Linked DNA regions of Homo sapiens: region 1 is linked to region 2. Evidence: fine-mapped expression QTL. Tissue or cell type: whole blood. Region 2 holds a variant in brackets; the other region holds the start of a gene. All regions are shown on one strand. Distances are from middle to middle.

Region 1 (2,620 bases), 59 kb before region 2:
GGGGCGGCCAGCTTCTTTGCGTGCTATGCAAACAGCACACCCAGTCCGACCAATCTCTCGGTTCCTGTGTAAATCAGACAGCTCCTCCTCAAGCTCGGCTATAAAACCCCATGTATTTCACCACGAGACCAGAAGACTCACTTGGGAGCCCCTCTCTCTCTGCAGGATAGAGCTTTTCTCTTTTTTCTCTTCTCTTGCCTGTTAAACTTCTGCTCTGAAACTCACTTTTTTTTTTTTTTTTTTAGATGAAGTCTCACTCTGTCACCCAGGCTGGAAGGAACTGGCGCAATCTTCGCTCACGGCAACCTCTGCCTCCCGGGTTCAAACAATTCTCCCGCTTCAGCCTTCCGAGTAGCTGGGATTACAGGCATGCGCCACCATGCCCAGCTAATTTTTGTATTTTTAGTACAGACAGGGTTTCACCATGTTGGCTTGGCTGGTCTTGAACTCCTGACCTCAGGTGATCCGCCCGTCTCAGCCTCCCAAAGTGCTGGGATTACAAGGGTGAGCCACAGTGCTCGGCCTTAAATTCACTTCTTGTGCATCCGCATCCTTGATTTACTTGGCATGAGAGGATGAACCCCAGACAACAACACTGCTTCAGTAGGAAGTCTGGTGTTTTAAGTCTAATGAAGAGCTTCAGAAGAGTTTTAAGCAGGGGAGCCGGGTGCAGTGGCTCACACCGGTAATCTCAACACTGGGAGACTGAGGCAGAAGGATTGCTTGAGCCCAGAAATTCAAGACAAGCCTGGGCTACAAAGCGAGGCCCTGTCTCTCTTCAAAAAAAAAAATAAAAACTAAAAAAAATTAGCCAGGCGTGGTGGCATGCACCTGTAGTCCTAACGATTCAGAGGACTGAGGTGGGAGGATCGCTGGAGCCCAGGAGTTTGAGGTTGCAGTGAGCTATGATTGTGCCACGGCACTCCAGCCTGGGTAACAGAGCAAGACCCACATAAATAAATAAATAAATATTTGCTGGAGGAAGGGTAGATTTACAGACTTTTTCTCCCAAGTCCTGTGACTGGTTAGGGTTGGTCCAAATAACCAAATAATGTATTACCTTCTATGAGACTTTGGGACTCTTAACTTCTTATGGCTCAGCAATCATAACCAGTAAGTATCATCTACTGGGGGAAGAGAAAGATATGTTAAAATGACTCCTCTGGAAACTTCAGATACCAACACAGACACCCTAAAATCTGGTTTACTCACCTCAAAGCCACAGGCTTATTTAAGATTTATTTTGGCCCCAAAGGCACTTCCTAATCCTCAGACAATGTGATGTAACTTTCAGGGCATTTCCTCGTTAGGGTTTACCAACTCAATCATCCCAAAGGTGATCAACAATAGCTAGGCAGAAAAGGTACAGCAAATAAACGAAAAGCAGAACCATGAGTCTGATGGCGAAAGAGGGGAAGCAGTTTGCTTTTCTGATAGCAATTTCATGAGTCAGCTGACCTAAGATACATACTTCAATTCTCATGGGATTTCTTGAGCTAGGAAAGGTGGTTGGCTTACGGCACAGTAGAGAGCTTCCAGGGCTGGCTGGCGTGGGATACCCGTACCACAGAAATGCAGGGACCATTGCTTCTTCCAGGTATGTGTGACTGTAACAATGACTGAGGCTTAACCTATCCCCCAGTCAGGGACCACTTGGTTCAACAATTGGTTATTTTCTCCTCCTCTTTCTTCTGCTCTGAACACTCTCACCTTTTCCCTTTGGAGTGTGGTTTCCTTCCTGACTACCCTATTCAAAGTATGCTCTCGAATATCCCTAAAATGTTCCTATCCAATCTAGTAGCTTGGTTTTTTGTTTGTTTTGTTTGTTTGTTTTGTTTTGTTTTTTGAGACAGAATCTCACTCTGTCACCCAGGTTGGAGTGCAGTGGCGCAATCTTGACTCACTGAAACCTCTGCCTCCCGGGTTCAAGTGATTCTCCTGCCTCAGCCTCCTGAGTAGCTGGGATTACAGGCACACATCACCACACCTGGCTAATTTTTGTATTTTTAGTAGAGATGGGGTTTCACCATGTTGCCCTGGCTGGTCTCGAACTCCTGACCTCAGGTGATCCACCCGCCTCAGCCTGCCAAAGTGCTAGGATTACAGGCATGAGCCACCGCACCCGGTCTCTAATACGTTGTTCATCTTCCTCTTGGCAAGTTTTGTTTTCTAATTGATGTCTTCTCCTTCTTGATAACTTCTGCAAACTAGCCCTGCCCTGACTTTTTTCCTTTTTCTCTTGCTATTCTTTCTTCTCCCTCCTTTATCATTTTCCTGTGACAAGAAAATAAATGATAATTTTATTATTAATTTTAGAGGTCATTATATTAAGTGAAATAACTCAAACACCAAAAGACAAATGCCTCATGTTCTTGTTTATCAGTGGGAGCTAAATAATGTGGACACATGGACATAGAGAGTAGAATGATAGACGATGAAGACTGGGAAGGCTGAGGGAGTAGAAGGACAGTGGAAAATAAGAAGTTACCTAATGGTTACAATGTACATCATTTGGATGGTGGATACTCTAAAAGCCCTGACTTCACCACTATGAAATCTATGCGTGTAACAAAATTACACTTGTATCCCATAAATTTATACAAAGAAAATAATGATAACC
Region 2 (2,614 bases):
TCTGCAATAGCCACTCTATCTCTCCTCCTCTTCACAGCCAAAATTCTAGAAAAAAAGGTGGGGTGTGGTGGCTCACACCTATAATCCCAGCACTTTGGGAGGCCAAGGCGGGTGGTTCACCTGAGGTCAGGAGTTCGAGACCAGCCTGACCAACATGGAGAAACACCCTCTCTACTAAAAATACGAAATTAGCCAGGCGTGGTGGCGCATGTCTGTAATCCCCAGCTACTCAGGAGGCTGAGGCAGGAGAATCACTTGAACCCGGGAGATGGAGGTTGCGGTGAGCCGAGATTGCGCCACTGCACTCCAGACTGGGCAACAAGAGCGAAATTCCATCTCAAAAAAAAAAAAAAAAAAATTCTAGAAAAAAGCTTGTTTCCACTGTGTTGTCTTCACTTGCTCCAACCTCCTCACTGTTCAACCACTGCAATCTAACTTCTGCTTGCAACACACCAAAGGATGAACCAATGTCCCAAATGCTTCCTCGGTGCAAAGTCCACTGGTTGTTTCTCAGTCTTACCAAACTTGACCGCTGGGTCAACATTTGACTCTGTTGATCATTTTTTTTCTTCTTGAAGCATTCTCTTCTCTTGGCTTCCCTGATGCCACACTATCCTCCTATAAGGATAGTCAATTCATTCTGGTTTACCCGGGACTTTCCCAGGTTTAGTACCAAAAGTCCCACAATCCAGGAGTCCCTCAGTCCCAGGCAAACCAGAACCATTTCACAAACTCATCTTTGATGATGACACTCATCCCATAGCATCATCATTTGAGTTCTCCCAAAAGCAAACTCTGAGATAAGGAGTTTAATGCATGCAGGTAGATTATTTTGGAGATGATCCCAGGAAACACCAACGGGGTGTGAAGAAATGAGGCAGGGCTGGGCACGGTGGCTCACACCTGTAATCCTAGCACTTTGGAAGGCCGAGATGGGCAGATCACGAGGAGTTCACGTGGAGATCACGAGGAGATCACAAGGGCAGAGGTCAGGAGTTCAAGACCAGCCTGGCCAATATGGTGACACCCCGTCTCTACTAAAAATACAAAAATTAGCCGGGTGTGGTGGCATAGGCCTGTAGTCCCAGCTACTCGGGAGGCTGAGGCAGAAGAATCACTTGAACCTGGGAGGCGGAGGTTACAGTGGGCGACAGAGCAAGACTCTGTTAAAAAAAAAAAAAAAAGTAAGGCAGAGAAAGAACAAGATGTGTTAAAAGATGTGTTATTGCTGGGAGCAGTGGCACACACCTGTAGTCTCAGATACTCTGGAGGCGAAGGCGGGAGGATTGCTTGAACCCAGGAGTTCAATGTTGCAGTGAGCTATGATTGCACCACTGCACTCTAGGTTGGGCAACACAGCGAGAACCTGTCTCTCTAATTTTTTTTTTTTTTTAGCAGAGTCTCTCTGTTGCCCAGGCTGGAGTGCAGTGGCATAATCTCAGCTCACTG[T/C]AACTTTCGCCTCCCGGGTTCAAGCAAATCTCCTGCCTCAGCCTCCTGAGTAGCTGGGATTACAGGCACGCACCACCACGCCCGGCTAATTTTTGTATTTTTTAGTAGAGATGGGGTTTCAACATGTTGCCCAGGCTGGTCTCGAACTCATGGCCTCAAGCGATCCACCTGCCTCGGCCTCCCAAAGTGCTGGGATTACAGGCGTGAGCCACCACACCTGGCCAGAGATGCTGTCTCTCTAAAAAAAATTTTTTTTAATTTTAAAAATTAACCAAAAATGTGTTAGTTGAGCAGGCTATCTCTCTAGGCAGGTGGAGCTTTACCCTAGTGGGGACTTTCAGGAGATAATGTGGAACATGCATCTCAGAGTCACCTCTCCCGAGGAACGAGGGAGCTGGGGTGGGAGATGGAAGTTGCAGTGAGCCAAGATCACACCACTGCACTCCAGCCTGGGCAACAGAGTGAGACTCCATCTCAAAAAAAAAAAAAAAAAAAAAAAGAAGGCAGCTGTAGAAAGAGATCAACAAACAGTGGGAGGCACAGATGGAATCTGAATCCCAGTTCTGCCATTTACCCACTAAATGACAATGGACAAGCCGTGAGACCCCACCTCTGGGCCTCAGTTTGCCCAGGTATAAAATGGGGTTGGTTAGCCAGGTGTAGTGGCACACACCTATAGCCACAGCTACTTGGGAGGCTGAGGTGGGAGGATCACTTGAGCCCAGGAGGTTGAGGCCACAATGAGCTGTGATTGCACCACTGCACTTCAGCCTGGGTGACAGAGTGAGACCCTGTCTTTAAAAAAAAAAAAAAATGGGGGCCGGGCACAGTGGCTCACACCTATAATCCCAGCACGCAGCACGTTGGGAGGCTAAGGCAGGCAGATCACTTGAAGCCAGGGGTTTGAGACCAGCCTGGCCAACATGGCAAAACCCCATCTCTAGTAAAAATACGAAAAAATTCACTGGGCATTACGGTGTACCTGTAATCCCAACTACTTGGGAGGCAGAGGCAGAAGAATGGCTTGAACCCAGGAGGCAAAGGTTGCAGTGAGCCGAGATCACACCACTGCACTCCAGCCTGGGAGACAGAGTGAGACTCTGCCCAAAAAAAAAAAAAGATTGGCGGGCGTTGGTAAATATTCCAACCTCACAAAGTCATGGTG

The links. PIP is the estimated chance that this variant, and not a neighbour inherited with it, causes the effect.
Region 1: it holds the start of ADGRE3, and the variant in region 2 is fine-mapped to the expression of ADGRE3 in whole blood (TOPMed, PIP above 0.99).

Annotation. Positions count from the first base shown.
Region 1 is chr19:14,673,723-14,676,342 of GRCh38, reverse strand. It overlaps ADGRE3 (adhesion G protein-coupled receptor E3), which reads left to right and starts at 1,499. Exons shown (of 16, transcript NM_032571.5): 1 at 1,499-1,597. The coding sequence starts at 1,573.
Region 2 is chr19:14,614,537-14,617,150 of GRCh38, reverse strand. It overlaps a transcript of ADGRE3 not described here. Among named protein-coding and RNA genes, the nearest start is that of SNORA104, 6.4 kb to the left of the region's middle. The variant T/C (reference allele first, on the strand shown) is at 1,450.